4 separate regions of the Homo sapiens genome follow, and regions 2, 3 and 4 are each reported to be linked to region 1. The links are microRNA targets in miRTarBase. Many come from high-throughput screens and were not tested one by one. Region 1 holds a microRNA gene; each other region holds the end of a gene's coding sequence.
The links. Region 1 holds the annotated microRNA hsa-miR-7110-3p (UCUCUCUCCCACUUCCCUGCAG, at 2,871-2,892, shown strand). A microRNA usually pairs through its seed, bases 2 to 8, with sites in the 3' UTR of a target mRNA and lowers its output. Matches are read on the target gene's strand: a 7mer-m8 pairs with bases 2 to 8, a 7mer-A1 pairs with bases 2 to 7 and ends in A, and an 8mer does both.

Region 1 (6,092 bases):
AGAAGTTGCATTCCATGTGTGCGGCTGGCAGCTAGTTTAGGTGATTCAGAACAAGTATACATTTCTAATTTAGTAGATTTATAAAACCATACACTATATTTCCAATAGCTCCAGGGCATTGTATACAAATTAAATTCATAATTTAAAGCAGATGCAGGGAGAGCAGCAGCCCAGAGCCATGTTCATCCAGCACTTTCATGGCGGAGCAGCAGCTCCTGGCCCGGGCTGGGCATGGGGCCTCAGCCTCTGGCTGCAGGGAAGGAAAGTATGTGGATGCCCGTGTCCCTGGGCAGGGCCCCATAGCACCTGCCCTGAGAAATGGAACCCCACAATTTGGCCAGGGGAGCATCTGCCTCATGTTTTTAAATAATAAAGTGCGTTAGAGGTGGGCTGCGGTTATCAGAAGTGCATAGGGGCCAGTCTGCTGGCCTGGGTGAACTGGGCTCCAGGGGGTGCTGGGGAAGGTATGTTTAGCCTACCTGAAGGACAGCTGCCTCTCTGCCCAGCCAGTTGTCACCTGTGAGACTGCAGGGTAAGTGCCATCAAGTCTTCTGACTTTTAAAGAGAAGCTGGAAAGCCAAATTGTTGTATTAAATCTTCTGGCTCCATTTCTATGTTGGAGCTAATTCAGATTTATTTTTTTTGTTGTTGTTAAATTCAATGTGGGCCAAATAGAAGAGGACTGAGAGCCAGATACAGATTGCAGGCAGCAAGTTTGTAAACTCCATTTTAAAAGTCTCACCGTATAGAATGTTACATAGCTGAAGAGTAGAAGGGAAGCGTGAGGGTGAGGGGGGTGAAGGTGGCACCTGGTGGCCAGGGGAGGCCGCACCTCACTCTTCTCTTCAGCTATCCATCTGGCAGCTCACCTGGGCATGAGGGACATGATGAGTAAACGTGGCCATGGGGGCCCACAGGATTCTCCTACCTGGAAAGGGGCTTTGTCCAAATGCAAATAACCATCAACCAAAGAACTGTGTGAATCATGGTTATTCAATAATTTTAAATTATCTTATTGAATCACCCTCTTTTAATTTCTTCCAAGCATTCATTGAGCTCTATCTAAAATGATCTAATTTGTCATACAGCAGACGCTTGATAACTGGACTTTGTCAAGGTCGACGTTGTCCCCCAGCATCTAGAACAGGCTTGGCACACGGCAGGGTTTCAGTGTGTGTTGCCTGGTAGGAGGACTCATTCTCATGGGAATCTGCCCCATCTTCCATAACACCTCTGTACTGGGTATGGCCATTGAGGACCCCTTCTCGGGCTTCCCTGGTGCATGACCCTCAACCGGAAACAAGTTCCCCATTTCTGCTTTATACTGTCTTCCTTTGAAAAAACAACAAATGATGAGGAAAAGCTACCCAGCATGTGGAATTTGCTAGATGGTCAAGAAGAGGCCAGTGGCCAATGTGGGAACCACTTTCTGACCAAACATTCTGATGGCTTTACTCATGCGGGGCTCCTCCAGTTTCCAGATGTGCTTCCCTGGTCTCCTCCTCTTCCAGTCTTGGCTCAGATGGCGAATCATACAGAGCGCCTTTGCCCCACTCACCTGGCACCTGGACCACCTCCCTCATCCCTCACATCACATCATGTTGGAATTGTCCCTTTATCCAACCCCTGCCCAGACACTGAGCCCCTAAGTGGGGACAGAGCTTGTATATGGGGTTGGAAGAAGTGACTGTAATAGCAGCTGACATTTCCTGACCATGAATCTGGTGCCAGGTTCTGTGCTCACTGGCCTCACTGGAATTCTCTTATTCAGTCTTCACAATATCCTGATAGCCTAGATACTATTATTATCCCCATTTTACAGCTGAAAAAAATGAGGCACCAAGAGGCTGAGTTATTTTCCTTAAGTCTTACTGTCCAGGCAAACCAAGAGTGCACTTGGGGAACTTGACTTGAAAGCTCTTGCCCTTAACCTTGGCACTATACTGTCCCCCCAAGCTAATGTTCCGGAAATATTAGTGGAGAAATGATTAAATCCTACAGTCCCTTACAGATAGCACCACAGAACCTGTGGTGTTTACAAATGCTTTCAAGTCATCATTTCCTTTACGATCATCATACTCTTGATTTTAAAGGACAGTCTAAAGGCACTCCAGGCCGAGTCCCCTAACCTTACCCATCTGGAAATTGAAAACAAGCACCATCAGTCTCCAAGGAGTCCTGAGCTGGGGGTGCTTTGGTTCAGTTCCTACCTGCCACTGAGGAGAAAAATCAGAGTGGGCCTGTGACGTGGACTAGATGTGCAATCTGTGTTGTGGGGTCCAGGCCTCAGCCTGGGGACACCCTGTGCCAACTCTCTTTACCTTGGCTCCTAGATTGCCTGTGCCGCTGTTGACTGTGTCAAAGACAAGAACCAAGACCTGTGCCAGCAGGAGGCGGTCAAGGGCTACCCCACTTTCCACTACTACCACTATGGGAAGTTCGCAGAAAAGTATGACAGCGACCGCACAGTAAGTGGGGGAGAGGCGTCTGCCCAGAGCTCTCTCTCTGCTGATGGGCAGGGAAACTTCCACTGAGGAGGGGCAGCACTGGGCAGCATCCCAGAAACTGCAGAAGTCAGCTGGAACACTGCACCGAGAGGCCCAGGCCCTGGGCCTGGCTGAGGCTTGACATTGTTGGAGGAGAGTCCCAAGGGGTTGCCACAGATGTCCTGTCCCCAGAGGCAGGCTGGACTCCAGATGCCGAGGGTTTTCTCACTTGCTGGTCGGGGCTGGTGCAAGCCACGCAGACCCTCTCCACCTTGCAGAAGTCTGCCCACCTCTCCCTGTCATAGGAGTGACCCCCTGGAGGGGCTGGGGGTGTGGGGAGAGAGAGTGCACAGCCAGCTCAGGGATTAAAGCTCTTTCTCTCTCTCTCTCTCCCACTTCCCTGCAGGAATTGGGATTTACCAATTATATTCGAGCCCTCCGGGAGGGAGACCATGAAAGACTAGGGAAAAAGAAGGAAGAGTTATAATTCCTGCCTCAGAAAAAGCTTTTCCATTACACTGTGAATGATACCTGTTTTGTTGTTTCTGAATTTCCACATGTTCTGAAGACAAATTTTTTATAGCCGCTTATGGCCATTTTGTACAATTTTGAAATAAAATTAAACCATTTATTTGGTGGTATGGTTTATTTTCGTGGAGCCTGTACTAAAAAAGGTGGATACTCACATCCTCCTCATTCCACCACCTCTGCTGGGAGGTACAGAGCAGTGCTCCAGTGCCCCATCTGCATGGAGGTGACTCCTGAGGGTGTCGGCCCCCTGTCAGTCATTTGAGAGCAGAACAGGGAAACTGGACCGCAGAATATCCTGCTGGAAAATGACAAGCTAATGAGAGGAAATACGTCAAGATGATCAATGACTTTGGGAGGCTGAGGTGGGAGGATCACTTGAAGCCAGGTGTTCAAGACCAGCCTGGGAAACATTATGAGACCTCATGTCTACAGAAAATAAAGTTGCTGGGCATAGGGGTACATGCCTATAGTCCCAGCTACTTGTAAGGCTGGGAAGGGAAGATTTCTTGAGCCCAGGAGTTCAAGGCTGCAATGATCTATGATCGCATGACTACTCCAGCCTAGCTAGAAAGCAAGACCTGTCTCAAAAATAGAAAAAGAAAAAGAAAGAAAAAAACAAAAGATGATCAGGGAAATTGGGATGCTGAAGCAAATGGTAACCAAACACTAGCTTCTTCTGGATCATTGCGGTTTCAGCATTGGTGTGTTTCCTCTGTGTGTGTTTTCCTGGAACTTACTTAGGTATTTATCTTTCTCCAGCTATTTGTCTTCTCTTCGTCTCTCCATTCCCTCCCCAATCTCCCTTTAAAGAAAATTAAGTTGCCGCTTCAGGGGCATGAATGGAGTGGGGGAAGGGGGGCTCTGTGCCAGCTGCTTGCTGTGCACCCTGGCTGGAAGGGATGGTGTGTTCTCGAGGTGCAGATATTAGATCTGCTCACCAGCCCCCACCACCAACCATAATAACCCCAAATCTTTACGCCACGTTTTCCATGGATGGGTGCCTTGCTCGGCCTCCTGCCTGTGTACATCTCCTTTTTGACCCACCTTTCTGGTGAGTCCTCCTGCTTTCTGCATTCCTGCGTGACTGACACCCCAGCCCTGTGCCCAGCGGTGCAGGCAGAGCCTGAGCACAGCAGTAACATGTTTTGTCTGCTTGGTGGTATTTCTCCATGGACAGCAGAGTGGCCTTGTGCTAGTATCTTGTCTTTAGTTATAAGTAGCGGTCCTAGAGTTGGATTCCTCCAGTAGTTCAGGGGGGCGTTGCTTAAGCTGCAGTACTTGGAAGCACGCTCTGGTGGCCTTGATGGGGACTTGGCCTGCAGGAACAGCCCTCCTTTCCTGGACCCAGCTCCCTTCCTCCTGGCCTAAGTCCTTCCTGCTGATGAATCTGCTGAGAGGAGGACAGAGCCTCCAAGTTCTTCACAGCTGTTTTGACGATGGTGCCACTGTGGGTGGTTTCATTAAGGGAAATCAAGGTTTTGAGAGCCCTTGTTCTGTGCAGTTCTCCAACTTTCCAATTGACCCTCCTGCCAGTTCAGCTCTTCTCTTTTCCCCTAAGCACCCACTTCCTTGGCAGTGGCCCCTGGACTTCACCCAAGGATTGGATATGAAAGACAGAAGCATACATTTAGACATCATTGAAACACAATTATTGAGTCCCTTCCTGTTGGGGACCATGAACATCTTACAAGGTGTCATTTAATCCTGACACAGGTGTTTACCATTCTAGCATGTGTGTGTCTGGACATGGGTCTCCTTCGTTATTTGGAGTATTTGTAGGGGGAACATATTTGCTTGTGTTTTTCAAAAAAGTTTTTTGTTTGTTTGTTTTTGGGTTTTTTTTACTGCACCTTTTCAATAATAATCTCACAAGAGCCACTTCCTGGCTGAGGACCACTAGTGCCCACCTGCGAGGCACAGGGCTTACTTTCTGGCCATTCCACATCCTCAGAGTTCAGATTTTCCTGGCTTAGCTTCTATTTGAAGACTTAAAAACATGAAATATTGTCAAATATAGATTTAAAGAAATTTTTTAACACATCATGAAATGGAATCCTCTTCACATCCCTATTTATTGACTTTGGGCATGACCTCAGCAAATTTCGTCGCAGCTCTGGGCAGCTCCCCCTGCGGACAGAACTCTCTTCCTCCACTCGCCCCCTGGCATCCGGGTTAGTTCTACTCCCAGTCACCATGCTTGGTTCTTTGTGGTTTCACTGATGTTTAGTGCAGACCTCCTCCCTCTGCCCCACTGGAGGGCTTGCTATCACCCTCCTCTGTTCGCCTGGATCCTGCGTTGCAGGCTGATTTCTCTGCAGGAAGTACGTGAGTTAGGGGAGAACTGATCCCCATCTTTATTCTGGTGCCCCTTGCCCAGCAGTGAGTCCCCATCACCACCTAACTGGAGCCTTCCGAGCAGGACCCTGTCTCTCTTACCTTCCTCATGCTGCTCCCTCCCCTTCTAGAGGTGTTTGGCTTCCAGGAGCTGTTCTGCGCCGGGCACGGGAAGGTGATGCTTCCAGGTTCAGAAGCTGGTTTTCTCCACCGCAACGTAAGAAGATGTGGAATCTCATCTGGAAAGCATCAGGCCCTCTTAGGAAGGCAAAGCCTATGTCCAGGGGTTACATCACCTGCCCACATCACATGGAATAACACAGGCACCAGCCCTGCCCGCAGGAGGCTCCCAGTTTGAGAGTGAGTGCACATTGGTGCTCAGAACCAAACTCTGTGCATTGTGCTCTTACTGTTTCCCATTCTTTTATTGTTGACTAGAAGAAGGAAGCTGATATTCTTAAGCTATCTATCAAAACCAAATTATGCTTATGGTCCCACCAAATATATGTCACCTCCAAAATCTTCTATTTTAGGCCAGTGTTATCCAATAGCCATTAGCCACATATGAGTATTGAGTACTTGAAATTTGGCTACTGCAGCTGAGTGAAGGTGTGTATGTCTATGCCTTTTTATATTGTGGTAAAATATACATAGCACACAATTTACCATTTTAATCATTTTTAAAGGTACAATTCAGTGGCACTAAGTACATTTACATTGTTGTCCAACCATCATTATGAT
Region 2 (6,092 bases), not on the chromosome of region 1:
GCCTTTGTGCCTGATTTCCTTCACTTAGAATAATGCTTTCAAGGTATACTCTTGTAGCATGTATCAGTACTTCATTTCTTTTATTGTTGAACAATCCAATGTATGAATATGTAATTTTTATTTATCCTTTCATGAGTTGATAGACATTTGGATTGTTTCTACTTTTGACTATTATAAAAAATGCTGCCACAAACATTTGTGTACAAGCTTTTGTGTGGACATATATTTTCATTTCTCTTGGGTAGAAATCTAAGAGTAGAATTGCTGGGTCATATGGTAACTCCATGTTTTTTTAACCTTTTGAGGAAGTGCCAAGCTGTTTTCCAAAGCAGCTGAAATATTTTACATTTCCACCAGCAGGGTAGGATGGTTCCAATTTCTCCACATCCTCACTAACACTTGTTATTATCTGTCTTTTTTATTATAGCCAACCTATTTGGTGTGAAGTCATATCTAATTGTGGCTATGATTTATGTGATCTTAGTGGTTAACGATCTTCAGCACGTTTCTATGTGCTTATTTCCTGTTTGCATATTTTCTTGGAAGAAAAGTCTATTCCAATCCTTTGACCAGTTTTTAAAAATTTGGTTTTCTTTTTATTAAGTTGTAATAGTTCTTTATAAATTTTGGTTGCCAGTCTCTATCAGATATATGACCTGCAAACCTGTTCTGTGGGTTCTATTTTCACTTTCTTGGTAGTATCCTTTGGAGTACAAAAGTTTTTACTTTTAATTAGATTATTTAGAGTCAATGAACATATTAATATGCATCCAATCTCATTAGAGATTAAAGATAAAGAGAAATAAGATTTTTGTAACTTAGAAGATTGGCAAAGATGAAAATAAGAAAAATTAAATTTATCATTAGCAAAGATTTAAGCACTCTCATAAACTCCTGGTGGGGTTTTAAATTGAACAAGTTTTCCTGAGACTATTTGGCAATGTATCTCAAAATCCCTAAAAAACAAAAATGAAACAAAACAAAAAATCTCTGTATCCTTTGACCCAACAATTCCACTTCTAGAAATGTATCCCAAAGAAAAAGTTGAACAACTTTGCAAAAATGGATTTTATTATTGGAATGTTTATATAACAAGAAATTAGGTGAGTAAAATCTAGCAATAGGAGATTGGTTAAATATATTCTGGTAAGCCATATAATAAGATACTGTATAATTATTATAAATGACCATTAATTTTTTTTTATTTTTTAAAGACAAGGTCTTACTATGTTTCCCAGGCTAGTCTCAATTCCCAGCCTCAAGCAATTCTCTCATTTTGGCCTCTCAATAAATGATAATTTTCATCAAGTTTCACCACCTATCATGTCCTTAAGGTCCAGATGTAACATAAATGAATGAAAAGGCTCTCTAGAAAATTGGACAGCATATGCCCCTTTTGGAGAGGGCAGTTTCAATTAACTGATGCCAAGCAAGAAAGTATATGTGTGGTGGTTGTGAGGTGGGGAGTGGGAGGTGTTCTGTGTTGTTAGATTATCCAGTATTTTAAAACATGCAGGACATTGAATTGTACGTAACATTTTCTGAATTTCAAAAGCTGTCTATTGCTTAAAGATTTTTTTAAAAAATGTTCAATGGCCAAATAAAACACATCATTTTTGGACTAGATTCAGTTCAAATGCTTGGAACTCTAATGTAAATACACATTTATTGACACAGAAAGATATCCATAACATATTGTTAAAATTTTAAACACCCTGCTACAAACAGTTTATATAATATCTCAATTTTGTTAAAATACAAGCATATTTACATATATGTATAAACTCTAAACAGTGTCTAAAGGGATATAAATCAAAATGTTATTAGTGGGTAATTTTGCTTTTCTGTTGTATATAGTTCTCTATTTTTGTATTTTTATATTGACCATTAATATTTTATATTCAGAAAATAAATGATACAGTTCTTTGTATCTGTGGTTATAAAGGTAAGAGTTAATAGTCTGGTTTAAAATGTTAAGAATAAACTTAAAATCAAAATCACTAAGTATATAATCTTGCACATGAAATCAGACAGACCCAAGTTCAAAATCAATTATTCCATTAATTACCTCAGTGGCTTTGGGCTTTCTCACCTGTAAAATGCCAGTGATAATACCCGCCATCTCCACCTCAGATCCTATTGGTGATGTAAAAATGAATAAATAAAAATAGAATTAATATCTAAAACACTACATTCCTAGCATCACCAAATCTAAGTAGATAGAAGAGAGAAGGGGGCTTTTTCTACCACAGTTCAAGTCTAGAAAGGAGACAGATGCTCCTCATAGAATGTAACAATGTCATGGAGGCATAATACACAAAAAAAAATTGTTTGTTTTTGCTATTCTATCTGGAGGCAGGAACATCACAGGAGACTAGGAGACTTTTCCCTTGCCACCTCCACTCCCAGAATCCAAAGCTCCTCCCTGCTCCACATCTCACTCCCCATCTAGCAAGGACACCCAGTGGAATGAAGCAGAGTATGGCTGACAACCCACTGCCAGAAATAGCATCAGATGAGGCAGAATCCATATTACGTTTTTGAGAATTTTTGGGTGGGTCCTAAGTGTGAGTAGAGCTCTGGGACAAATAAAATAAACTAGAGAAGCTACTTCCAAGGATTGGATTTGACCCTGGAGTAAATAAATGTATAAATATTGTTTGAGAGTTTGTCATCCTTTATCTCCTCTTCCCACCTAACTGTATATCCAGTAAAGACATGGATTTACCAAATAGAATTCAAGTAGATGAAGAGGTACACTAGTAAAATCAACCAATCAGCTGATGTAAGGTGGGTTTTGTTTCTGTCTATAGAACCTCTTTTTCACCACAAAGGGCTTAACACCTGCATTCCACTATTCCTCCTACCAGCAAGTTAAATATAACAGAGGGTAAAGAAATTTTTTCAGGCCATTGTAGCATCATTGGAAACTTGCCTTCAAATGACTTCAGGTACCTCCTCCTCGAGTGCCCAGTTTTAAACCCAGGGAATAATTTCATCATATCTGGTCCATGGAAATAGCAAACTCTTTAAGATATTTTTGATGTAGTAACCCATTTTCATTAGCTTTGCTTTTTCAATTCACAATAAAAGAAAACAATAAGTGTTTTTTTCATATCTTTACTCTTTCAGTAATGTGCAACATAAACATAATAGTGTTAAGAAGTCAGAAATAACACAGAAGCTATAGGAGATGTTTATATTTGCAAAATTTCAACAATTATCTTCTCTAGGTTTCCCCAAATTAGCATATTTGTTAATCAAATTAATTAAGAAGCTTTTCAAAATAAAAGCAATGCTTTAAATAAATATATTCTTTCATAACCATAGAACATTTAGTTCTGTTGGAGGTAACAAACATTACACTCAAGTACTTTATGAAGACATTAGGGTAAAAATTACCTAGATGCAATTATAAATGTACCCTAATTAGTCATTTCTTTTTGCATGTATGCTTTTCTGTGTGTGTTAGGGTTATATCATAGATGTGTGGTAACTGGTTAGCTCTTAAATTATCACAAAGATATTATCGGACCCACAGAATTTATATCAGCTCAATGTGATGATATGATATTGTTTGAACAATATCTTTAAATTTAAATTTAGTACCCTAAATTACATCCAAACAAAGCCAACACCTCTAAGCTGCCATATCTGTTATAGAAAATGAGTGCTAGACTCTCAGCTTGGAAGAATGAGACCTTCCTACAAATCTCGAAATTATACAACAATATTATTGTCACATCAAAATCCTAATTGCAACAGAGCTTTCAGTGTGTTTCAGAGTACCACACAGGTAGGTATAAATTCACTTATGATCAGCTTTTCTAGTGAAATCATATGTTTAGTAAATGACTACAGAAAACTTCCTAAAAATTGATTTTATTTAATAAATATTTTTTAAAGTTTTCTGACTGAAGAAATGACCTTGCTAATCTTTTTAGAAATTCTCATCATCTGTTTAATCTTTCATTCACTTTTATTTCTACTCTGATTCTTAGGAATTTTTCTAATCTATATTTAATCTACCAAAACATCTATGCTTTGATAAATTTGGCTTCCTTCAATAATAAGCTATGCTAAGATCACTAAATTAAATGTCAAAGGCAGAGAAGTCAAATTAAACACAGCAACAGGTTACAGTAAGTGCTCTTTAGAATTTCAGATTAAAACAATTGTCCCAAAATGATCAAGGAATAACTCACTAAATGAATAATGCAACACAGAATAGATTTTAACAGAATTTCTCTCTCTCTCTCTCTTTCTCTCTCTCTGCCACACACACACACACACACACACACACACACTCTTCCACAGGCATCCACACAGGGGTGTTGACACATGTCTCAGAATTTAAAACACTGATACTAAAGGCTTTAATTTAGATAAATTAACTACACTGAAATACTGACATTGTGAAAATATCTATGTCCAATACCCCATATAGGGCACCATTTTGTGAACTTATAAAACATTTAAAGAAAGAAAACAAGAATGAGAAACCAGAGTCCTTGATAAGATGGGTGAACGTGTCGATAATGCCCAGAGTCACAGCTTCCCATTCTCCTCACTACTTTCCTTCTCCTCTATGGCTTCCAGGCTGCGCTTGCTCTTGGCCTCAGCACTGCTGCTGGGGGCTTTACTCAGTCCACAGGACAGGCATGCCAGCTGGATCTGCTTCATGTTTTCTATAGCTTCATTCTTGGCATTCTTCAACAGATCTCCTTGGCCCTACAAACAGAAAAAAACAGGCATCAAAGAAGACAGTTATGGGCCAGGCATGTGCTGAGTGACATCACTCTATGTTCTTACTGCCCATTGCTGAATAAGGAAACAGACCCAGACCTGCAAGCTCACTTTTCCAGGGTTTAACCCAAGGTTCTTTTCTAACATTATTAAGTGACTTTGCTTGTTAAGCCAAGTACCTCAACCTGAGCCTGACCAGCTGGCTATGCAATTGCTGGCAGTCCGTTGAGATTCCTATTGTGAGGAATCCTCCTCTTTATGTGCTGAGGACATCAACTCTTCCATCACCATGGTCTGAGACTCTGCACACTGCTGCAATACCTACCCCGCCCAGATCCAGCATTCCTAGTCTTGGGAGAAAACAAGGAAAGAAGCTCTTCCTTAAAGAAGTGAAAATAAAATCTCCCCCTCTGTACAAGAGCTTACAAAGCAAAGTGTCTTCTGTAAAGTAAGTCACATACCCTTATGCTTGGTGAGCTGGTTTTTAATATACTGGGTCATCCTTGCAATCTGCCTGTTGTTAAATTATCAGTCACCCACATTACTTCTGCCTTTTCCATCATCCTGAAGATGATGTTCCCACCTGGCAGATGGAGAAAAAGAGTCTCCAGAGGCAAAACAAAAAGGAAATGAGGATTGCAGGAACACATTAGCTGTCATTTACATCAGTGCCCAACAGAGATCTTTTCCTGCTATTTTTATTTCTTATTTTAGTTCACTGTTATGAAGATAAAGTGCGTATACTGATACTGGCCCAAGGGCTGAATGACTGAGTGTGGGGAAGCAGGGACAGGTGTCTATGGCCCATAGACAGAGGAAGAAGTAGCTTCTTCCCTCTCCTCTCCATTCTCATGGCAGTGCCTGAAAGTGTGACCTTGAAAGGACAATATGGGTGGATATGGGGTTATGACGATTGCTGGAGCATTATTCTACAAAGCAGAGGCTCAGAGAAAGGATAATTTACCTATTTTATGAAAGGCCAGTAAATGCTTTTTCCTTAGGGTGTATGAAGAAACTTGTATTTTACAAAAGCTTGGAATATTTTATTTCTCAAAACCTAAATATGCACTTGCCAATTCTATCCTCTGTAAAAAATAGCTAAATCCTTCTAATAGCAGCTTTTAATTATATGGGATGATTAAATAGTTGGGCTTTGCCTGATGTTTGTGTTAAAGCGAACTTCTTCTCAAGTACATCAATTATGGTATGGGATTTTGGAAGAAGAGTTGGAGGTGGACAGTTTTGCCTTCTCCTGAGGAGAAATGAAGCTGAGCCTGATGAGGTTAATTGACTGTCCCAAGGTCACAGCTGGTTAATCGCTGAGCTGGGACTAAAGTTCAGGCCTT
Region 3 (6,092 bases), not on the chromosome of region 1:
TTCCTGGCTGTGCTCGCCATCCCTGTGTGTGCCGTGCGAGGACGCAACGTCGAGAACATGAAGTGAGGGGCAAGGGGTCTTGGGCAATGAGGGAACCTAAGGGTACAAAGTGAGTAGTGGATTGGGGGAAGGGGGCATGGTGTGTGTAGAAAAGACTGAGAGAGACCAGAGACAGGGAATGGGGAGAGGACTGCAAAGGTGGTCAGAAAGACAGTAAGGTGGGGGGAGCTGAGGCATGCAGATGGACATCAATGGATCCCACTGGGACCCCTTGCCATGACCCCACAGGATCTTGCGTCTAATGCTGCTCCACATCAAATACCTGTACGGGATCCGAGTGGAGGTGCGAGGGGCTCACCACTTCCCTCCCTCGCAGCCCTATGTTGTTGTCTCCAACCACCAGAGCTCTCTCGATCTGCTTGGTGAGACCCCACCACAGGGCACACCTCCCCCAGCCATGCCTCCCCTCCTGAAACCTTCCCTAGAATATCTTCTCCTAGAGATCCTCAATTCCCCTTCCTCTGGGACATTGCCCCCTTGCCTCCCACTCAGGCCTTCATTCCCTGGGTAGAACTGCCCTCATAAGCAGGTTACATATACTTTTGGTCACCCTTTCCTTCACTTGGGGCCCCCCTCCCTGCCTAGTCTCCTCCTTCACCTCCAGTCCCTACCAGAGGGTGATGAGCTGGGTGAGGTGGGTTGCCTTCTGTGACACTCTGCCTCCACCCCGATCCTCACCCACTCCCACCCTGCCCAAGGGATGATGGAGGTACTGCCAGGCCGCTGTGTGCCCATTGCCAAGCGCGAGCTACTGTGGGCTGGCTCTGCCGGGCTGGCCTGCTGGCTGGCAGGAGTCATCTTCATCGACCGGAAGCGCACGGGGGATGCCATCAGTGTCATGTCTGAGGTCGCCCAGACCCTGCTCACCCAGGACGTGAGTCATCCTGGGGAAATGGGGGATTGGAGGGATACAGAGTAGAACAGTTGTAAATAAACTGATATGCAGGGCCAGTGGGCCTCAAAGGTCCCATTATAACATCACACCTATTCTGACTCCTCCATATGTATTTGTCTTCTTTGACCCTCTTTCTCCCCCAGGTGAGGGTCTGGGTGTTTCCTGAGGGAACGAGAAACCACAATGGCTCCATGCTGCCCTTCAAACGTGGCGCCTTCCATCTTGCAGTGCAGGCCCAGGTGACTACTGCTCTTCGTTCTGCTACTCAGCTGCCAACCCCCACCATTCCCTCATCTCTGGGCAGGGGCTTATTGTAGGAGTCTCTGAAGAGAGCTGTGGACTGACCTGCTTTAACCCTTCCCCAGGTTCCCATTGTCCCCATAGTCATGTCCTCCTACCAAGACTTCTACTGCAAGAAGGAGCGTCGCTTCACCTCGGGTGAGGGCTTTGAGCAGTTCTGGGGTAGGGTGTGTCCGGAGAGGCTGGGAGGACATCCCTGTGAGGCAGGGGGATCATTCAGTGTCAGAGCCATGAGATGTCTACACAGTCATCTAGTCTAACCCCACATCAGCCAATAAGTCTTTACTAAGCACCCACCATACCCTGCCAGATGGGTAGCACTTGGTCCCACCAAGAGAGGCTGTTACTAATCTTAACAGGAAAGATAAGGCCTGTGTGCACAAAGCTGTAATGAATAACACTCATTCAGCAGTAAATGCCAAACCCAGAGGAGGGGGGCTGGAGGGGTGCTGAGGAGATGTCTGAACTGGGGATTGGAGAAGGCTTTGTATAGGAGAAGGGCCTCAGAAGTGGCAGCTGGCAAGCCCAGGGATGGTTGTCCAGGGTTGGGGGAAGAGAACTGAAAGGTTGAGGAAGAGTATCACTCGGAAGCTGGGCCCCACCTGTGGGCAAAGACCTGGGTGGACAGGCCATGATGGTGCTCCCCTTGCCCCAGGACAATGTCAGGTGCGGGTGCTGCCCCCAGTGCCCACGGAAGGGCTGACACCAGATGACGTCCCAGCTCTGGCTGACAGAGTCCGGCACTCCATGCTCACTGTTTTCCGGGAAATCTCCACTGATGGCCGGGGTGGTGGTGACTATCTGAAGAAGCCTGGGGGCGGTGGGTGAACCCTGGCTCTGAGCTCTCCTCCCATCTGTCCCCATCTTCCTCCCCACACCTACCCACCCAGTGGGCCCTGAAGCAGGGCCAAACCCTCTTCCTTGTCTCCCCTCTCCCCACTTATTCTCCTCTTTGGAATCTTCAACTTCTGAAGTGAATGTGGATACAGCGCCACTCCTGCCCCCTCTTGGCCCCATCCATGGACTCTTGCCTCGGTGCAGTCTCCACTCTTGACCCCCACCTCCTACTGTCTTGTCTGTGGGACAGTTGCCTCCCCCTCATCTCCAGTGACTCAGCCTACACAAGGGAGGGGAACATTCCATCCCCAGTGGAGTCTCTTCCTATGTGGTCTTCTCTACCCCTCTACCCCACATTGGCCAGTGGACTCATCCATTCTTTGGAACAAATCCCCCCCACTCCAAAGTCCATGGATTCAATGGACTCATCCATTTGTGAGGAGGACTTCTCGCCCTCTGGCTGGAAGCTGATACCTGAAGCACTCCCAGGCTCATCATGGGAGCTTTCCTCAGCACCTTCACCTTCCCTCCCAGTGTAGCCTCCTGTCAGTGGGGGCTGGACCCTTCTAATTCAGAGGTCTCATGCCTGCCCTTGCCCAGATGCCCAGGGTCGTGCACTCTCTGGGATACCAGTTCAGTCTCCACATTTCTGGTTTTCTGTCCCCATAGTACAGTTCTTCAGTGGACATGACCCCACCCAGCCCCCTGCAGCCCTGCTGCACCATCTCACCAGACACAAGGGGAAGAAGCAGACATCAGGTGCTGCACTCACTTCTGCCCCCTGGGGAGTTGGGGAAAGGAACGAACCCTGGCTGGAGGGGATAGGAGGGCTTTTAATTTATTTCTTTTTCTGTTGAGGCTTCCCCCTCTCTGAGCCAGTTTTCATTTCTTCCTGGTGGCATTAGCCACTCCCTGCCTCTCACTCCAGACCTGTTCCCACAACTGGGGAGGTAGGCTGGGAGCAAAAGGAGAGGGTGGGACCCAGTTTTGCGTGGTTGGTTTTTATTAATTATCTGGATAACAGCAAAAAAACTGAAAATAAAGAGAGAGAGAGATCTGGGTGTTGGTGGTTGCATTTGTTAAGGAATTGAAGAAGCAGTTCTTGCCCAGGCAACCTGCCCCCAGCCAGAAGACTCAGGGGCAGGCCAAGAACACAGGCCTCCCCCTTTCTTCAGCTCTCTGAAGTTTCCATTGTTCATTGCTCTTTGGTGGCTGATAGCCTTATCTGCAGCTCACAGTCGGCCAATCCCAGAGGATTAGTGGGTCCGGTTTCTGTATAAATTAGGGGGCAGGGGTGCTGTAGAGGCTTCTTATCGATGATTGACGCCGAGGCCCAGGCTGTTGTCCTCACAGGAGCCTGGTTAATGACATGGCAGACACAGTGGCTGTGGTCAGCCTGGAGTGGACTACACTGCCACTCTCACCAAACAATAAGTGAAACTGTTGGGCTGGGGACAGGATTTCAGAAGAGAACGATGGTAAAGTGGAGAGGCATGAGGATAGTGAATGTTGGAGAGGGGCTTGGAGGAAAGAGGGAATGCCTGAATGGAGAGGGGTCTTGGGGAAAGTTGGGGAATAGAAGTCAAGGCGGGAGGAGTGTGAGGACTCACAGGCACCTAGCCTCTCCTCCAGCAGCAGCACCTGGTCGCTGAGAGATTCGATCCGGTCACCCCGGCCCCACAGCTCAGCCACCTGTTCTGGCTGCAGCTCTTCAGGCGGCACGGGCAGCACCGCTCTGACCCAGGCCCCAGCCTGACCGGCCCACTAGAAAGGAAGAGATGCCTCAGGGTATTGACAGTGACGTCTGGCCTCGCCCCACCCAGCAGGCTTGGCTCACCTGCTCCAGCCGCTCCAGGCGCCCTCGCAGCTCGTGAATCTCCTGCTTCAGAGCGCGCTCATCTTTTTCCGCCTCCCGAACTAGGGACAAAGGAGACCAAGAGTGTGACCACTACCCGAGCCCGGACGCCCGTCCCGAGTCCCTCGGGTGGCCCGTACTCCTGCCCACTCACCGGCCACGCTGAGTATGCTGGCACTGGTTGGGGGCTCTGGGGACCCCTCCATGCAGGTGCGCCCGTCCACGCCTAGCACTAGGTCATGGGGGCAGCCGCAGGTGAAGCTGCCTGCCGTATTAAAACAATGGTGCGAGCAGAGGGTGATGCTGGTCCTACATTCATCCACGTCTAGTTACCGAAAAAAGGAAGGGGCTGAGAGAGGGGGCGGGGGCAAGCACCTGGGTAGGTGGGGAGGACAAGCTGACTCACCCACATGACAGTGCTTCCCTCCCCAGCCGGGGGCGCACTCGCACTGGTCAGGCCTAACGCAGACGCCTCCGTTCAGGCAAGGCTTGGCGCAGATGGCTGAGGACAGAGGAAGTGGGGTTCAGACTCAAACCGACGACCCAGCTCCCCAGCTCCGTGGGGCGCGCCTCCCGCAAGGCCCGGAAGACCCAGCCTCACCTTCACAGGTGAGCGCCCCCGGGTGCCGCTTCTTCCAGCCCTGGCAGCACACTGCATGGGTCTGCTGAACCTCCCGCCTCACCTCCCGCCACATAACGCGGTACATGGTCCTGGAACACAGCGCCCGGCTCAGGACCCTGAGTACGGGTCCTAGTTGGGGTTCTTGGGGTCCCATCTCCCCATCCCTCACCTGTAAGTGCTGCAGATGCGCCTCCCAGCGCACAAGGTCAGGTAGGGCTTGTACACTGGTTGGCTGTAGGACTCGTTGTAGTGGAGCGGGACCACCAGTGTCTGCTTGGAGCAGACTCCCTGACTGCGTCCATGCCAGAGGATGAGGTGGGAGAGATTGAGTAGGCCAGGCCCTGGGGAGCCAGGAGTCCCACTTCCCTCAAGAGGCTACTGAGGCCCCCCGCTCTCCCTCCAGATGACAGCCTCTCACCCCCATTCTAAACTTACAGTTATGTTTTGCCTCCTGTGAAGCCCCACCCCCAGCAGAAGGCTCCTGAGAAGAGCTCACCCCGGGCCCTACCCCCTCTGTTGTCACCTCTCTCTGAGGGATCCACCCTTGGCCCCCTCGCCTGGTATCAGTAGCAGGAGGAAGGAGAATCCGCCTAAGAGAGTGCACAGCTCAGCCCTGGACCCCATGATTCGCTTTGACGCTGGACCCTACAGGCTGCAGGCAAGAAAAGGTTAATGGATGCCCGTCCCCTCTCCTATTAATTTCTCCAGCACTAGTCCCTCCAAGGGCACTCTGCAGGTACCCTCTAAGGGAGTCAGGACATTCACTTTTACATACTAGCCACCAGGATTGCCTACACCTGTGTGTACAACCCAACACTATCCTGTCCTTAGCATATCATGATCCTTTCAGCATCATAAAAGCTCACACCCCAGCACACTCCCTCCACCTCCCCTCTAACCTACTTACTTCTAATCCCCTCTGCACAACCTGGAGGGACACACAGTCAACCCTCCCCTTATGACCCTCCTGTCTTTTTTTGGGTTTTTTTTTGTTTTTGTTTTTGAGAAGGAGTTTCGCTCTTACTACCCAGGCTGGAATGCAATGGCATGTTCTTGCCTCACCGCACGACCTCCGCCCCCCAGGTTCAAGTGATTCTCCTGCCTCAGCCTCCCAAATAGCTGGGATTACAGGCATGCGCCACCACGCCTGGCTAATTTTGTTTTGTTTTGTTTTGTAGGGTGTGAGGGTATATAGCTAGGGTTTTTTTTTTTTGGTTTTTTTTTTGTTGTTGTTTTTTGAGACGGAGTCTCGCTGTCACCCTGGCTGGAGTGCAGTGGTGCGATCTCGGCTTGCTGCAAGCTCCGCCTCCCGGGTTCATGCCATTCTCCTGCCTCAGCCTCCCGAGTAGCTGGGACTACAGGCGCCTGCCACCACGCCCGGCTAATTTTGTTTTGTATTTTTAGTAGAGACGGGGTTTCTCCATGTTGGTCAGGCTGGTCTCGAACTCCCGACTTCAGGTGATCCGCCTGCCTTGGCCTCCCAAAGTGCTGGGATTACAGGTGTGAGCCACCATGCCTGGCCA
Region 4 (6,092 bases), not on the chromosome of region 1:
CTGGGTCCTTCTAAACACAACGGATATGTCTTTTCCTAGGCTTGTGCCTTGGTACAGATAACCAGATGTTTGAAGAAAGGGAGGGGGACTGGGCACGGTGGCTCACTCCTGTCATCCCAGCACTTCGAGAGGCCAAGGTGGGCAGATGGCTTGCGCCCAGGAGTTCAGGACCAGCCTGGGCAACATGGCAGGACCCTGACTCTACAAAAAATTAAAAAAATTAGCTGGGCCTGGTGGTGCCACACTTGGGAGACTGAGGTGGGAGGATTGCCTGGACCCAGGAGGTCAAGGCTGCAGTGAGCAGGACTGTGCCACTGTACTCCAGCCAGGGTGAGGGCAAGACCCTGTCTCAAAAAAAAAAAAAAAAAAAAATAATAATAATAAAAGGGAGGGGGATTAAAAGTAGTTAATGAATGAAAATTTATAATAAGAGATATTTTTAAAGTTCCATTATTTTACTCCCCTGCTTTTTATTTATTATTTATTTTTTAATTTTTTGAGATGGAGTCTCACTCTGTCGCCCAGGCTGGAGTGCAGTGGTGCACTCTCGGCTCACTGCAAGCTCTGCCTCCCAGGTTCATGCCATTATCCTGCCTCAACCTCCTGAGTAGCTGAGACTACAGGCGCCTGCCACCGCGCCTGGCTAATTTTTTGTATTTTTAGTAGAGATGGGGTTTCACCATGTTAGCCAGGATGGTCTCGATTTCCTGACCTCGTGATCCGCCCGCCTCGGCCTCCGTAAGTGCTGGGATTACAGGCGTGAGCCACCGCGCCTGGCCTACTCCCCTGCTTTGAATCAAATAAGGTATGGCACACGGCTTGCTGAATCCCGAGGTCTACTTATTAGTACCTGCTTATTTCTTTTCACTATCCTTCAGATTCTGTTTAAAATCCTAAAGTTACTTATTTACATTAGGAGGTGCAGCTATTTCCTAATAGGAATAAGCACTTTTTTTTGTCATTTTGCAAGCTCCTCTTCTATACCATGCCATCTTTAATTTTAAACAGCCCAGTCTGATGTCATCACAGAGGACCCGGTGTCAGCCACTCAAAGGGAACATTCTGCCTCCTGGGTTTCAGGTGCTTTTTTTGGTAACGCTAAGTGTGGGCCAGCGTGGAACAGTGGTTTTCCCGCTTGCTCCTTTGGCTCTCTGTGGTGGCAGAGCACCATGTTTTATGATCACATCATTTTTTCACTCTGACACGTGTTCAAACTTTTGCTTTGGTTTGGGTCTTTCAGGTGTTATCAAGGAACTCATCTTACACGTGTAGACATCTTCACCTTTCAAAAACACTCTGTTCTGGAAGTTCTGTTGCTAATAATTTTAGAGTTTAATTAGCTGAGACAAAGAAAGTATTTGCCACTTAAATTCCCAGACAGTGACTTGGCAAAATGAGACCTACTAGATTAAGAGTAAAAATGAAGAGAAAAGAAAAACAAATTAGGTATCATTTCATGGTAGTTGGGTATCAGTATATGAGAACGGTAAATGTTTCACTTTTTAATTTCCAGATTCAAATTATTAGTGCAGCTCATGTAGAGATACAGGAACAAGAGATTTAATATTATTTGAAATAATATTGAATACTGAATAATATCATTGAATATATAATATTGAATATTATTATTTCGGCCAGGTGTGGTGGCTCACGTCTTTAATCTCAGCACTTTGGGAGGCTGAGGGAGGCAGATCACTTGAGCCCAGGAGTTTGAGACTAGCCTGGGCAACACAGGGAGAGCCCATCTCTCTCTCTCTCTCTTTTTTTTTAAATTCATTACATAAAAACAGATTGGGGCAACGGTTTGTTTATTTACTTGCTTTTGACATCATATTTGCTCCTTCAACTAAAATGGTTTCCTCCATCTAGGATGTTGTGGTGTCTGAGCAATTAAAAAACTTAAAACGGTTTCCTCTTGCTATAAAGTAATGCAATTTTCTCTCATGGATTTCTTCCTCTTTCAGGGATTCAGAGTCAAAATCTATAGGAATATTACTAAGCCTGGCACATAAGACTTTTATGTGAAGTTAATCAGGTTGAGTATTTGGGAGCGGGAGGATCTCAGAGAGGACAGAAAACTGTTTATGAAAACTAACAGGTGACGATGAAACATTCCAGTGGTTCTGCAGATGATTCTGACTCATTATTTTCTCTTCATGAACGTCATATTTAGAAAACAATTTTTTTTTACTAAACAAAGTGAATTTATTAAGTAACAATTCAGCTTTCATTTATCAACAATATGTAAGTGCTAGATTAAAATACCTGATCAATATGAGATGACAATGGTGTTCTAGTGAAGACACAGAAATCCAGTGATGAAGCCTTATCATGAGTAAATGGATGGTTTCCATTAGATTTTGTCAAATATTGAATACAGATATCCATTAATATCTCTGGGCTCGAGGGTCCCAAATAAAAAACACTCGTAAAGACAGTCAAGAGGAAAAGGAAACCATGAGATATAGAGAATCTGGGGTAAGGCAAGTTCTTGCCATGCGCATCCCCTCTTCTGCTTCATCAGCAAATTATCTGCATGTTTTTCAGAGTGTATGTTACTTGTGTATTTTGAACCTTTTTCACTAATACCATGCTCTGCTATCTACCAAGTTTCCAATCTGTGATGGTCTGTTAGGTTACAATAAATGTTTCGATGACATTAATGAGCTCATTTGTGATCAGTAAATAGGAGCATGAACTCAGTGTAACATGGAGTTGTTCTGGCTTCTAGGCATGGGCTCCGGAATAGCAGAAGTAAAATTGTAACTCTAAGGAGGAAAGGAAAGTTCTCAGTCATTTCAGCTCTTTCTTAGGGAAATAAAAGGAGTCCCTGCAAGTGGAGCTCCTCCCCAGAGAGGCATACCCCTGAGATTTGCATGATTCTGGGCCCTGACTGGTTGCATTTCCTCCTGTGCTCAAAGTTCCTCTTCCACCTGCTCTGCTCAGCGCTCAGAAGCCAATAATCGCACTCAATTGTTTCTGTGCATTTTTAACAACCCCTGAGGCGGCCTTCACCACATGATAAGTTGCCTGCCTAGGCTATCCAAGTTACCTCTAGAAGGACTATTCATGTTTTTGTTAGTGCTTTAGTTACACAGATGTACAATTTTTGAGAAGTTTATCCCTAATCTTATTTTTACTGTAAACTCTTTAATGAACATTATGGCAGAATGCATTGTCTTTGAGGAACAGGTATCTTGTGTTATTGTAGAAGTATTGTACACTTAGTGGATGCTTACTAAATGCTGACACGTTATTTATTATTAATTGTCACAGGAATTTTAAAAAGTAATTCCATGGAATGACTGTATTAACAAGAACCTAATTACAAGAATTGAGCAAGACCATTTGACTCTCTAGAATATAGAATCTCTGTACGTCATTTTATTTTATTTTATTTATTTATTTTGAGACACAGTCTTGCTTTGTCACCCAGGCTGGAGTGCAGTGCAGTGGCATGATCTCGGCTCACTGCAACCTCCACCTCCAGGGTTCAAGTGATTCTCCTGCCTCAGCCTCCTGAGTAGCTGGGACTACAGATGCCCGCCACTAAGCCTGGCTAATTTTTGTATTTTTAGTAGAGACGGGGTTTCACCATGTTGACCAGGCTGTTCTAGATCTTCTGACCTCATGATCCGCTCGCCTTGGCCTCCCAAAGTGCTGGGATTACAGGTGTGAGCCACTGCACCCAGCCTAAAAGTCATTTTAATTTGTAAGATATGTTTACTGTTTTAGAGAGACAGAGGCTAACTTTTCATTTTCAAGGACTGCTGAACAATCATCCATGAGTTCTTGAAGTTGAATAACAGGAAACTGTACTTGTTTTTCAAACCATTTGGCTACTGTAAGAAGCTGCTGGTCACAAAACGCACGTCCAATAAACTGCAGTCCTATTGGCAACCCTTGGTTTGAGAGTGCAACAGGGATACTCACTGCTGGCAATCCTGGGAAAAGAAGGAAACCCAGTAGGTGATTAATTCTCCACCCTAATTAGCAGAGACCTCTTCCACTTTCCAGTGCTAATAAGTACAATACAGGATAAGGTTTAAAAAACAACCAAAAATATTATGCTATATAATGCTTTTGTACTATGTTTTGTTTACTTAACAATATATCTTGGAAATCATTCTGTATCAGTTCACAGAAACCTTCTTCATTCATTTCTTATTGCTGTATAGTACTCCATTACTTGGTTTTACCATAATTGAGTAAACCAGTCTTCTGTGGTTGGGTATTTAGATTGTTTTCAATATTTAGCTATTTTATACAATGCCCCAGAGAATTACTTTGTGTATGTATTTTTTTGGTATTCTTGAAATCTTCTTAGATGAGGAGGAGATTGCTTCATCAAACGACAAATGCATATGTAATTAGATATTGCAAAATTCCCCTGCAAAGAAGTTGTACCATTTTGAACTTCCACCTATAGCCTTGCAGACAGAGTGTGTTGTTCAGTTTTTGAATTTTTGGCAATCCATTAGATGAGAAATTAGCTCAGGGTAGTTTTAATTCCAGGTTTGGGCAGAGAAAGTACAAAATCCCAGACCATCTTGTTATACAATAAAACAAGTTTTCAAAAATTAAAATGGGGACAGTTTTAAAGGATACATATAACTTGAAGGGGCTCTTATTGGCCAAATTTAAGGCAATTTGACCATCAAAAACAATACTGACAGTAATTGCTTATAATACATTGAATTAAAGAAAAAAAGGAAGGCTCTTCTTTAGAGAATACTGCTAGCTAATAAATGTAGAAGGAATGACAGATTTAGTAAAGCCAGAATTTTGTAATTCTCTAGCTAATATTTCAAGGATGATCAATGAATGCTAAAACTGGGTTCAAGATAATTGGAAAATAGGATATTCACATGGTCTCAAAATATTACTCCAGAAATTGCTTAAAAAAATGATAAAAGGAAAAATGTACCTTTTTATAAGGAAACATCTAGCAGTTACTTCCTTAGCGAAGTGATCAACTTGGTTTCCAAAAGTGAGACAAACTGATATTAACTGTTTCCTGACATGAAGATTATGTAGTACTTCTACCAAAAATGTTTAACTCAACCCAATCATGAGGAAGCAATCTGACAAATCCTGATTATGGATGGGACATCTTACAGCACAAGTGGACTGGGCTCTTAACATTTTTTAAGTGCTAAAGATAAGAACTGTTGAACCAGAGTTCTACATCCAGCAAAAATAACCTTTAAAAATCAAAGGGAAATCAACACATTCTCAAAAGGAAAGCTATGATAATTTTTCATCAGCAGACCTACCCTAAAAGAAAGGCTAAAGAAATTTCTCTAAACAGAAGTGACAAAATAAAGAATCTTGGTACTTCAGGAAGGAAGAATGAACACAGTAAGCAAAAGTATAGGTAAATGTAATAGACTTTCCTTTTCCTCTTAAGTTTTCTACATTATGTTTGATGATTGAAACAAAAATTATAGCATAGCCTGATGTGGTTTTAAAGAAAAAAGAGAGGTGGGGTGATTGTTCTAGATTTTAAAAAGATACCATAAACCAATGTAATATATCAGGAGGAAAGACAACTTATAAAAGACACTTTTGGTAGAACTGAGAAAATTTGAATATAAACCATATTTAAATTATTCTTCAATCATGTTAGTTTTCTTAGGTATGACAATGGAATTGTGGTTCTGTAGGAAAATTTATCCTTATAAGATTTGTACAAAAGAATTTAGGGGTGAAGTGTCATGACATCTGAAACTTTCAAATGATTCAGGTAAAAACAAAGTTGTTTGTGTGGTGAGTGTGGGTGTGTAGAAAGAGGAAGAGAAGGGCAAAGCAAATATAATGTTAACAAGATTACATCCAGGTGAAGGGCATATCAGCATTCATTATACCACTTTTTCAGCTTTTCTGTGGGTTTAAAATTTTTCAAAATAAAAGTTAAAAAAAACTACTAAGTGTGTTGTGTTTGTGTGTGTGTGGTGAGAGTGCATGCAAGTGTACGGATATGGTTTGGATCTGTCTCCCCACACAAATCTCATGTTGAATTGTAATCCCCAATGTTGAAGGTGGGGCCTAGTGGAAGGCAACTGGATCATGGGGACGGTTTCTCATAAACG

Region 2: the mRNA of PLCL1 is a reported target of hsa-miR-7110-3p. Seed matches in the 3' UTR shown: 7mer-A1 at 4,268-4,274, 8mer at 4,266-4,273, 8mer at 4,264-4,271, 7mer-A1 at 4,256-4,262, 8mer at 4,254-4,261, 8mer at 4,252-4,259 and 3 more.
Region 3: miRTarBase lists AGPAT1 as a target of hsa-miR-7110-3p. Seed matches in the 3' UTR shown: 7mer-A1 at 3,135-3,141, 8mer at 3,136-3,143, 8mer at 3,138-3,145 and 8mer at 3,140-3,147.
Region 4: the mRNA of QRSL1 is a reported target of hsa-miR-7110-3p. Seed matches in the 3' UTR shown: 7mer-A1 at 1,755-1,761, 8mer at 1,753-1,760, 8mer at 1,751-1,758, 8mer at 1,749-1,756, 8mer at 1,747-1,754 and 8mer at 1,745-1,752.

The regions. Positions count from the first base shown.
Region 1 is chr3:123,158,988-123,165,079 of GRCh38, forward strand. MIR7110 (microRNA 7110) reads left to right here and starts at 2,807; the gene lies at 2,807-2,892. PDIA5 (protein disulfide isomerase family A member 5) reads left to right here. Exons shown (of 17, transcript NM_006810.4): 16 at 2,334-2,468; 17 at 2,893-3,117. The coding sequence ends at 2,973.
Region 2 is chr2:198,145,419-198,151,510 of GRCh38, reverse strand. It overlaps PLCL1 (phospholipase C like 1 (inactive)), which reads right to left. Exons shown (of 6, transcript NM_006226.4): 6 at 1,648-4,731. The coding sequence ends at 4,549. Among named protein-coding and RNA genes, the nearest start is that of LINC01923, 230 kb to the left of the region's middle.
Region 3 is chr6:32,165,267-32,171,358 of GRCh38, reverse strand. AGPAT1 (1-acylglycerol-3-phosphate O-acyltransferase 1) reads left to right here. Exons shown (of 7, transcript NM_006411.4): 2 at 1-62; 3 at 289-422; 4 at 759-934; 5 at 1,099-1,194; 6 at 1,321-1,393; 7 at 1,911-3,147. The coding sequence ends at 2,083. EGFL8 (EGF like domain multiple 8) reads right to left here. Exons shown (of 9, transcript NM_030652.4): 2 at 5,093-5,221; 3 at 4,739-4,861; 4 at 4,549-4,658; 5 at 4,354-4,449; 6 at 4,102-4,272; 7 at 3,930-4,009; 8 at 3,703-3,856; 9 at 3,078-3,449. The coding sequence starts at 5,193. The coding sequence ends at 3,403. PPT2-EGFL8 (PPT2-EGFL8 readthrough (NMD candidate)) reads right to left here. Exons shown (of 16, transcript NR_037861.1): 10 at 4,739-5,221; 11 at 4,549-4,658; 12 at 4,354-4,449; 13 at 4,102-4,272; 14 at 3,930-4,009; 15 at 3,703-3,856; 16 at 3,074-3,449. MIR6721 (microRNA 6721) reads left to right here and starts at 1,243; the gene lies at 1,243-1,329. RefSeq lists enhancers at 861-2,060, 3,569-4,321.
Region 4 is chr6:106,663,634-106,669,725 of GRCh38, reverse strand. QRSL1 (glutaminyl-tRNA amidotransferase subunit QRSL1) reads right to left here. Exons shown (of 11, transcript NM_018292.5): 11 at 1,309-3,944. The coding sequence ends at 3,724. Among named protein-coding and RNA genes, the nearest start is that of LINC02526, 29 kb to the left of the region's middle.